Linked DNA regions of Homo sapiens. The protein of the gene in region 3 interacts with the protein of the main gene of each other region in a biochemical or structural test. Each region holds a gene or a part of one and is shown on either strand. Other genes may lie near its edges.

Region 1 (3,651 bases), on a different chromosome or scaffold from region 3:
GGCTCATGCCTGTAATCCCAGCACTTTGGGAGGCCGAGGCAGGTGGATCACCTGAGGTCAGGCGTTCGAGACCAGCCTGGCCAACATGGTGAAACCCTGTCTCTACTAAAAATACAAAAAATTAGCCGGGCATAGTGGCAGGTGCCTGTAATCCCAGCTACTAGGGAGGCTGAGGTAGGAGAATCGCTTGAACCTGGGAGGTGGAGGATGCAGTGAGCTGAGATCACACCACTGCACTCCGGCCTGGATAACAAAAGCGAAACTCTGTCTCAAAAGAAAAAAAAAAAAAAAGGTAGGGATTCAACATTTGCCTCAGAAATCAAAAGGACTGAGAAGGCAATGAAGACTCCAGTGCTTAGTAAACTGCAAGCTGCTGACCAGCTGCCAGGGGTTATTCATTCTCAGTGGCCTAAGGCCTCCTAAAATGAAGGCTGTACCTCTGAGAGCTTCAGCTTCCTCTAAGATTCAAGAGAACGTTCTTCTTACCAGAGCTGGGTGGTGTCTTTGGAGCGGGCGGGGTTTTTGCTGGAATCCTGGTGGCGTTGGCCTGGCCCTTCTGGCCTGGAGGGGCTGCTCCCCGCGGTGTGGCGATCTTCGTTTTACCATCAGCCCCCTGTAAATGAAACATGATAGAGGGGTTTTTCACCATTGGGAAAAGTTACTGCCACCAAGAGTCAACACCAGCCCCACTCCGCCACCTTGACTCAAAACGTGGCTAAGACTGGGGTGACCCTTTGCCTCCTAGATGCCACTAGTGTCTGCTACAACCACAAGGGCTTGCTGGGCACACAAACCCACATCCCCACCCAAACTCCAAGTTCCCTGAGGACATTTCCTCCCAGAGGAACTGTGTGCATTAGTTATCAGCATGAGTTGTGCCAAGGCCAGCAGAGCTCACAGCAATGATCAGGTCACTCTCCACTCCATGTCAATCATCGGCAGGACATTAGTGCACTACACATATGCAGACATCCATTTTCTGACTCTAATTATGGATTTATTTGGCTGATGGTGGTTGGCTCCACCAGAGGCCCCTGGGGGCAGTGTTGAACCTGACCAAGGATGCTAAAGAGAGCTAGGTCGTGTTCTTTCATTCTCTCGCAAACAACCCTAAGGCCTCAAGAACTCCTTGGGTGTGCTCAGACCAGGCGAGCACCCGAGGAGGCGAGCACCAGCATCACTGACAAAGCTGGCAGAGTCGGGCATGGCACAGTCTAGGGACTAGGGCAGTCCCTGGGTTCCGTTACCCAGCAGATGACCCTTAGACATAACACAAACTCAAAAAAGAAACTGACATTAACCAAGGACCACAAGCTAGTTGAGGGGGCAGTGAGCTCACGGGGCAGTGTTGCTATGGCGTGATGCTGTCCTACCCAGATCAGGGCAATCTGGAAGCATTTCTCTTGCCAAAATCAGGAATGGGCAAAGGAACCCAATGAGAGTAGCAATTTTGGGTTTGTTTTTTAAACAATTTTTGCGACAGGGTCTTGCTCTGTCGCCCAAGCTGGAGCTAACTACAACCTCTGCCTCTGGGGTTCAAGCAATCCTTGTGCCTCAGCCTCCCGAGTAGCTGCGATTACCACCACGCATACCACCACGCCCGGCTAATTTTTGTATTTTTAGTAGAGACAGGGTTTTGCCATGTTAGCCAGGCTGGTCTCGAACTCCTGATCTCAGGTGATCCACCCTCCTCGGCCTCCTAAAGAGCTGGGATTACAGGTGTGAGCCACCGTGCCCAGCCTTAGAGTAGCGATTTCGAAACCAAGGTCCCACCAGGTGTCTTAGGAGCTGCTGCTATGAGAGCCTGTGGGGTGCTGAGAGGGATGGCCCCCAGCTCTCTTTTCCCCTTTGCCCAGAATTCTAACTATTTTACACGGTGCTTCTATGCCAGAACTCATTTGAAGAAAGGTCTTTGAGGCTAAAAAACAAATAAACAAACCCCACATTTGCAAACCACAGCAGAGCAGCCTGGTTCTTTTCAAAGGTGGTTTCCTTACCTTGAGTTTCATCTCCTTTGCTCCAGAACTGCCAGTTCGGGAAGTGACAGAAGAGACGTATTTAGGAGAGGAAGGTGGCTCTGGGCACACAGCAGGGCTGGAGGGTTGGATCAGAGGGTCTGAGCTACCAGGAGTGGGGTGTTTGGGGCTAAGGCAAGGCCTATTTTTCAAGGTTTTAGCAGAGGAACGTGTGGATGTCTTAAACATAAACATAAATAAAATCAAAATAAAAGTCAGCACATGGAGGAGGGAAACAAACTGAAAAAAGGACAGTAACTAAAAATAAATAAGGCAGGTAATGGTTGAAAGCAGTGATCTCCAGGCTGTTTGAATCAGGTACCCTTAATATCCCTTCTGATCAGTAAGAACAGGAAAGTGACCGTCCTCCCCAATCACAGTTCTTTTTCTTTTTCTTTTTCTTTTTTGAGACGGAGTCTCGCTCTGTCGCCCAGGCTGGACTGCAGTGGTGCAATCTCGGCTCACTGCAAGCTCTGCCTCCTGGGTTCACGCCATTCTCCTGCCTCAGCCTCCCGAGTAGCTGGGACTACAGGCGCCCACCACCACGCCCGGCTCGTTTTTTTGTATTTTTAGTAGAGATGGGGTTTCACTGTGTTAGCCAGGATGGTCTCGATCTCCTGACCTCGTGATCCACCCGTCTCGGCCTCCCAAAGTGCTGGGATTACAGGCGTGAGCCACCGCGCCTGGCCCTGACAAAGCTTTTAGAAGAGGACATGAAAAAGGAATGGAAGTTCTAGTACGTTCTTTCTCCAGCCTGTTGGATGTTACTGTGCCCCTGAATTTGGAGACGACTGGTTTAAAGGTGCTTCACATGAGTAAGTTGATGGAGATCATCAAGGTACATGAATCTTAGGATGTTACTCAAGAAAATGTCCCCAAGTGTGTCACGGGGTCTGAAGGGCCTTACTTTCTACTCAATTCCAGGCAAGGTGCTTTTTTACCTGCCCATTAACCCATGGCCTCTTCCACCACACTGACAGACTCATATGGCTACAATCAGGAGTGTGCCCCCCCCAAGTTGGAAAGATTCTACCTGACTTAGGTTACACCCACCCCCACCACACATGTGCTTTCTGATTAAAGTCTCAAATCAAACTAATATTAACACTATCTGGTGAATCCTAATCTGGCCAATGTTAACTCTTTTGTTTGTTTGTTTGTTTGTTTGTTTTAGAGACAGGGTCTCCCTCTGTTGCCCTGGCTGGAGTGCAGTGGTGCCATCACGGCTCACTGCAGCCTCCACCCTTTGGGTTCAAGTGATCCTCCCACCTCTGCCTGGCCAATTAAATTTTTTTTTTGAGATGGGGTCTTGCTATGTTGCCCAGGCTGGTCTAGAACTCTTGGGCTGGGGACATCCTCCCACCTTAGCCTCCCAAAGTGCTGGGATTACAGGCATGAGCCACTGTGCCAAGCCTCCAATGTTATCTCTTTTTCTTTTTTTTTCAGTTTGTCAGTGTAAACAACACTGCTTACTTTTGAACCCATTCCACAAGAGGAAGCAGCCAGGGACGGGTGTCTGCACGCCTGTCCCTATGGAGGCGGGGCTGGGGGGGGCCCTGGAACCAGGATGCAGGATAGATGGTGACTGACACCCACAGTTCGTCCTGCCCGTGGGGGATTTTGACGGGTGGGCATG
Region 2 (3,651 bases), on a different chromosome or scaffold from region 3:
GGCGTAATCTTGGCTCACTGCAACCTCTGCCTCTCAGGTTCAAGCAATTCCCCTGCCTCAGCCTCCCGAGTAGCTGGGACTGCACGTGCACGCCACCACGTCCGGCTAATTTTTTTGTATTTTTAGTAGAGACAGGGTTTCACCACATTAGCCAGACTAGTCTCAAACTCCTGACCTCAGGCAATCTGCCCACCTCGGACTCCCAAAGTGCTGGGATCACAGGAATGAGCCACCGCGCCCAAATTTTTAATTTTTTATAGAGATAAGGTCTCCCTATGTTGTCCACGTTGGTCTCGAACTCCTGGGCTCAAGCAATCCTCCCGCCTCAGCCTCCTCAAGTGTTGGGATTTTAGGCGTCAGCCACCATGCCCAGCCAGATACATATTTAACAGAAGATTGTAAGTTAGCTTAAGAAATGAGTGCTCTGACAATCTGTCTACCAATTGGAAAAATTTAAGTAACTTTTTAATTTATATTCTGAATAAAATATAGCCACAAAGAAAGGCAGCTATATGTCGTCACATGTAAATATCCCTAATAAATATCTGATAAAAGAAGAAAGTAGGCCGAGCACGGTGGCTCACACTGGTAACCCCAGCACTTTGGGAGGCCAAGGTGGATGGATCACTTGAGGTCTGGAGTTTGAGACCAGCCCGACCAACATGGTGAAACCATGTCTCTACTAAAAATACAAAAATTAGCCAGGCGTGGTGGCGGGCACCTGTAATCCCAGCTACTCAGGAGGCTGAGGCAGGAGAATTGCTTGAACCTGGGAGGTGCAGGTTGCAGTGAGCCGAGATCACGCCACTGCATTCCAGCCTGGGCGACAAAGTGACTCACTCCGCGCTCAAAAAAAAAAAAAAAAGAAGAAAGTAAGTCACAAAACAAAATGTGTAAGGTGATCCTATTTAGAAAAACAAACAATATGTTATACTATCCCTAAAGCACTCTTGTTCTTTTGCTGTCCTAAAGTGAAGAGAATGGAATAGGGAAAAGGCTTGGGGGAAAGGGGACCTGTCCATGTTTATTGTCTAGACTTCTTGAATGACTGAATGGAATATTTAGTTAATATAAAAATATAATTTAGAATGATTTCACAAAACAAGCCATATACTTATTTTTCTCAGATGTGATGAGGCCTAATATTTGAAACTTATAGGTTATACTGTGACATTATGGAAGAGCAAATAAAAGAAAATGAATACCTCTTTAAAAGCAGCCATTTGCTTCTGGATTCGGTTTACAAATCGCCATTGTATTACAAGACTAAAAAGAAACAACATTTCATTTTCATGTGAACCAAGACAAAATTCTGAGGCACAATTATTCTAGTTAGAAACAAAAACTAAAGGCTAGCTGAGACCAAGGTAAAAGCTGAATATGAGTGCTTGCTACTGCATTGTGATAGAGAAAAAGAACACTGAGATTCTGGACAAGGGGACAGAGAAAGATGGTAAGAAGAGTCTTTCTGGAATAAAGTACAAAATTATATCCAATAAAATACATACTAATAAAATACTTACTAAATATATTCCTTTTTGTTCTTATTGGTGACAACTATTTCTGATCCACCATTTTTCAGCTCATGTTGATGTGTCTAAAATTAAACACAATAACTTGATATGTTATTTTAGCGAGAAAAATTTAAAAAGTATACATATTGTAGTTATACGAGAAACTTGGTGTTTTAAATTAAGTCCAGTCAAAAGTTAAAAACTAAGAAAACTTAAAATACTAGTTTTACTAAAATAAATATGGAACGAGTCAAATGTTAAAGAAAGTACAAATTCTTGCTCAGAGACAGCTTTTGTTACTGGGAAATGAATGTAAAAACAGAGCCTAGGAATGTATTAAGTGTACGTATTAACATCTAAACATTTGTCTCACAATTTATGTGCCATTTTAACTGATCAAAATTCACAAACCTGTCCAAAAAGTTCTTCATCTATGATAAACCTGAGGTCCAATTCTGTTGGGTCATTTTCAAGAATCCATCTTAGGGAATTGTAATATTCACTATCCTAGATGGGAAAAATTACATATTTAAAATTTGTATCTATAACACACCTGAAATTGCAAAAAACAGTATGTAGAGGGTCTGAATAATTGGGTAAAAGATGAGAGGTCAGATGGACATCCTTTACTTACACACATATATAAACAAAAATGTATGTGTGTATGTGTGTGTATTACAAAAAGAGATGGATGACAGGTAAGGGCAAGAGTAAAAATGCATCAATCAATTAATCAATTGGTGCCTACTTAAAAGTTTAGAATCTATGTTTATGTGGAAGCAGTGGAGGTACAGATTTTATCATCCAGTTAAAGGAATGAATACAGAAGTTTTCAGATAAAACCTAACTTCTCTGGATATCCAGGAGCACTTAGCACATTCCTCATATGCCTATGTGACTTCGTGTTAAATGTTTTATTTTTATTTTTTAATTTAATTTTTTTTTTTTTGAGACAGGGTCTCGCTCTGTCCCTTAGGTTGGAGTGCAGTGGGGCGACTGTGGCTCACTGCAGCCTCGACCTCCTTGACTCAAGTGATCCTCCTACCTCAGCCTCCCAAGTAGCTGGGACTACAGGCGCGCACCACCACGCCTGGCTAATTTTTGTATTTTTTGTAGAGACAGAGTATCACCATGTTGGCCAGGCTGGTCTCAAACTCCTGACCTCAAGTGATCCACCTGCCTCAGCTTCCCAAAGTGCTGGGATTACAGTTGCACACCCCTGTGTCCGGCACTAAGTGTGAAATGTTTAAGTAGCTATGAGGAGGCCATTGTTTATACCCAGCCCGAGTTAAAGAAAAATCTCTTAATAAATATAGAGGCTCAATGAACCAACTCAAGTAACTGTGCAATCTTATGATTTATAAAGAATCACACTGTTTGTGCTGTTAATATGTAATAAGAAAAGAATAAAAAATGAACTTGGTACTAAGGAAGATGCCCTGGAATTCATGTGAACACACATTGTGTGAGGCTATTCAGCAGCACAGGAAACAACACGGCTACAGTCCGGGGTTTAATCCTTGGGCTTCTGTTTTTTTCTAGGAACCTAACCATAACGCTTTGCCTTTCGACTGCCATTTAAAAAATATACACCATTTGGCCAGGTGCGGTGGCTCATGCCTGTAATCCCAGCACTTTGGGACGCTGAGGCAGGCGGATAACGAGGTCAAAAGACTGAGACCATCCTGGTGAACACGGTGAAACCCCGTCTCTACTAAATATACAAAAATTAGCTGAGTGTGGTGGTGCGCGCCTGTAGTCCCAGCTACACAGGAGGCTGAGGCAGAGAATTGCTTGAACTTGGAAAGCAGAGGTTGCAGTGAGCCAAGATCACGCCACTGCACTCCAGCTTGGCAACAGAGTGACACTCTGTCTCAAAAAAAAAAAAAAAAAAAAAAAAAAATATATATATATATATATATATATATATATATATATATATATAACATTCATCATAAAAGATCATAATGCAAATACTGATTCAAAAGACATATAACTTGGTATAACCTATTGAAGTATTTAGTGGGATGTTTAATGTTATCTATAACTTACTCTGAAATGCATGAAGAAACTAAGACAGACTGATGGATAGACAGATAGGTATGTGATAAAGTAAATCTAGAAAAAAAGCAATTGT
Region 3 (3,651 bases):
GCGTGGCAGTATGCGCCTGTAGTCCCAGCTACTTGGGAGGCTGAGGCAGGAGAATGGCATGAACCCAGGAGGTGGAGCTTGCAGTGAGCCGAGATCGCGCCGCTGCACTCCAGCCTGGGTGACAGAGCGAGACTCTGTCTCAAAAAAAAAAAAAAAAAATATTATGGGCCAGGCGAGGTGGCTCACGCCTGTAATCCCAGCACTTTGGGAGGCCAAGGCAGGTGGATCACCTGAGGTCAGAGTGTGAAACTTGCCTGGCCAACACGGGGAAACCCCGTCTCTACTAAAAATACAAAAATTAGCCGGACATGGTGACGCGCACCTGTAATCCCAGCTACTCAGGAGGCTGAGGCAGGAGAATCACTTGAACCAGGGAGGCAGAGGTTGCAGTGAGCTGAGATCGCGCCACTGCACTACAGTCTGGGTGACAGAGTGGGACTCCATCTCAAAAAAAAAAAAAAAAAAGAGAAAGAAAAATTGTGTTTACATCATACTGCAGTCTACTGAGTGTGCAATAATAGCATTACAGCTATAAAAACAATGTACATACTTTAATTTTATAATACTTTCTTGTTAAAAGATGCTAACAATCATCTGAACCTTCAGTGAATCACAATAAAACAAAATCATTGACAAGGCGGGAGGATCGCTTGAAGCCAGGGAGTTTGAGACCAGCCTGGGCAATGAAGCGAGACACCCATCTCTAGAAAAACTTAAAAAAAAAAAATTAGCTAGGCATGGTGGCATATGCCTATAGTCCCAGCTACTCAGGGGGCTGAGATGGGAAGATCGCTTGAGCCCCAGGAGGTTAAGGCTGCAGTGAGCTATGATCATGCCACTGCACTCCAGCCTGGGCAACAGAGCAAGACCCTGTCTCTAAAAAAAAAAGAGGAAAAACATCACTGATATCAGATCACCATAACAGCTATTATAATAATGATGAAAAAGTTTGAAATACTGTGTGAATTACCAAAATGTGACAGAGACACAAATTGTGCACAGGCTGTTGGAAAAATGGAGCCTACAGGCTTGCTCAACACAGGGTCGTCAGAAACCTTCAATTTGTAGAAAACACTGTATCTGTGAAGCTCAATAAGGCAAAGTGCGAAAAAGCAGGATATGCCTGTCCTGGAGCCTGGATCAACTCTACAATATTTTGCCCTAAATGAGGCTGCCCTCAACCCCAATCAACGCTGACCTCAATCTGGACTCGAGGCTCCTCCTCCACCACCACTGGTCCTGACTTGCTATTTTACCCATCAACTGTCCCCTCTCCAGCCCCCAAATTCTACTTCAAACCCAAATGTCAACATTTGATTCCCAGTGGAATGCCCCTAACATTTGATTCCAATCACTGTTACCCCAGATTGGACTCCAAACATTGTAACCAAGTCTTATTTTTTTTCTTTTTGACACAGAGTTTCACTCTTGTTGCCCAAGCTGGAGTGCAGTGGCCCAGTCTGGCTCACTGCAACCTCTGCCTCCTGGGTTCAAGCGATTCTCCTGCCTCAGCTTTCCCGAGTAGCTGGGATTACAGGCATGTGCCACCACACCTGGTTAATTTTGTATTTTTAGTAGAGACGAGGTTTCATCATGTTGGCCAGGTTGGTCTTGAACTCCTGACCTCAGGTGATCCACCCACCTCGGCCTCCCAAAGTGCTGGCATTACAGGCCTGAGCCACCACCCCCTGCAGGGTAACCAAGTCTTTCACTGGCCCTGAGACCTGGTTGAATCCCTGTTATCCTCCTTCCATGGGAAACACTGTTGCTTCTGCCACCCCCTGAAACACCCAGGGCTTGAGAAGCGCCCTGACTTGCTGTCTCCCACACCATGGCTTCTCTCCTCCTGATGTTCTGTTCCTACTGTCCTGTCCCTCCCTGGCCTCTCTCCCCCGCAGGTCACCTGCCTGCTCTGAGCTGCCCTGGCCTGATTGGAAGCCCCAGGGACTGTCTCCCTTTCAGGGCTGGGGCTCAGGGTGCCTGAGGCCTCCCGCCAAGGCAGTTCTGCCTGTGCCCTTCCGGCTGGGAGTGGGAAGCAGGAGGACAACAGGAGGGGAGGAAGAAAGGCCAAGAGGCTGATGGGCTGGGGGCCCAAGTCTCTGAGAAAGACACTGCCGGGCCACTTGATAGCAACGACAACTAACGTTTAATTAATGCTGGTCATTGATGCAATATGAGGCCATTACCACACTATTATCTCCATTTTACAGGTGGGGAAAGTGAGACCCGGACCCACGATCTGAACCCAAACAGTTTCCACCAGTATTTTTTTTTTTTTTTTTTTTTTTTGGCAGAGTTTCACTCTTGTTGCCCAGGCTGGAGTGCAATGGCACGATCTCAACTCACTGCAACCTCCACCTCCTGGGTTCAAGCAATTCTCCTGCCTCAGCCTCCCGAGTGGCTGGGATTACAGACGCCCGCCACCACAACCGTCTAATTTTTGTATTTTTAGTAAAGAGGGGGTTTCACCATGTTGGCCAGGCTGGTCTTGAACTCCTGACCTCAGGTGATCTGCCCACCTCGGCCTCCCAAAGTGCTGGGATTACAGGCATGAGCCACCGTGCCCGATAGTTTCCACCAGACTTGATGCTCTTCTCTGTCACAATACCACACTGCCTCTCACACCTGAACCTTTTTTTTTTTTTTGAGACAGGGCCTTGCTCTGTTACCCAGGCTGAAGTGCAGTGGTGTAATCAAGGCTCACTGGAGCCTCAACTGCCTGGGTTCAAGCAAATCCTCCCATCTCAGGCTCCTGAGTAGCTGGGACCACAGGAGTGCACCACCACACACAGCTGATTTTTAAATTTTTTTGTAGAGATGGAGTCTTGCTATGTTGTCCGGGCTAGTCTTCAGCTCCCAGGCTCAAGCCATCCTCCTGCCTGGGTCTCCCAAAGTTCTGGGATTATAGGTGTGAGCTACCACGCTGGGTCATGAACCATTTCTACAAAGCAGCTCATGCTATGGACCAAGTCCTGTGTAAACAGGTAACTCGCCTACACTTAATTCCTGCAGTAGCCCAGGGAATGACTCCATGTTCCAGCAGAGAAACTGAGCCTTGGAGAGGGAAGGTGCCATGTGAAGGTCACACAGTCCATTCACAGGGGCAGAAAGACAACCTCCCCACAGCTGGGCAGTTCCAACCACCACGGCCAGGGCTCTAACCACGCGTCCGCCACTGCCTGCCGTGCCCTCACCCTGGCCTCCAATGTGGGTCCAATTATGATCTGCAGTCTTCAGACGGGGACACCCAGGCTCAGGCAGGGGGAGTCCCTCCCCCAAGGTCACAGGGCAGATGGAGCAGAGTGCTGGGATGCGAACCCCGGCCTGCTGATTCCTCCTGAGTGCTGAGCCAGGCTTCCCCACAGGCCCAGGCTTCTTCCCAGGAGAGACCAGGGAGGCAGGTGGAGATCCTGGAGATAAGGCCTCCGATCCCCACCAAGATAAGGACCTGGAGAAGAAGCCCTGTCAGGTGGCGCCAGGGCAGCCAGCTGGAGGTGGGATGGCACCACGCTGAAGGCAGCATGGCTGAGGGACCCCTGCGAGGGGCAGCTGGGGCAGTGGGTGACAAAGCCCCTGGGGGCCGGGGGTGGGAGCTAAAATTGGCCTGCACCACCAGCTGGCCTGGCTCCCTCCCGCCCGGCTGGCGCCCCA

Evidence for each region.
Region 1: of the proteins of MARK4 (region 3) and MAPT, one has a biochemical effect on the other in vitro, tested with the Homo sapiens proteins (2 studies listed by BioGRID).
Region 2: of the proteins of MARK4 (region 3) and NEDD4, one has a biochemical effect on the other in vitro, tested with the Homo sapiens proteins (one large-scale study listed by BioGRID).

The regions. Positions count from the first base shown.
Region 1 is NC_000017.11:45,988,422-45,992,072, reverse strand, and holds part of MAPT (microtubule-associated protein tau), read right to left. Parts: intron 2,196-3,651; coding exon 1,998-2,195; intron 614-1,997; coding exon 487-613; intron 1-486. UniProt on the Homo sapiens protein: Promotes microtubule assembly and stability, and might be involved in the establishment and maintenance of neuronal polarity.
Region 2 is NC_000015.10:55,836,584-55,840,234, forward strand, and holds part of NEDD4 (E3 ubiquitin-protein ligase NEDD4), read right to left. Parts: intron 2,022-3,651; coding exon 1,926-2,021; intron 1,598-1,925; coding exon 1,524-1,597; intron 1,267-1,523; coding exon 1,206-1,266; intron 1-1,205. UniProt on the Homo sapiens protein: E3 ubiquitin-protein ligase which accepts ubiquitin from an E2 ubiquitin-conjugating enzyme in the form of a thioester and then directly transfers the ubiquitin to targeted substrates. Specifically ubiquitinates 'Lys-63' in target proteins.
Region 3 is NC_000019.10:45,254,198-45,257,848, reverse strand, and holds part of MARK4 (MAP/microtubule affinity-regulating kinase 4), read right to left. Parts: intron 1-3,651. UniProt on the Homo sapiens protein: Serine/threonine-protein kinase. Phosphorylates the microtubule-associated protein MAPT/TAU. Also phosphorylates the microtubule-associated proteins MAP2 and MAP4.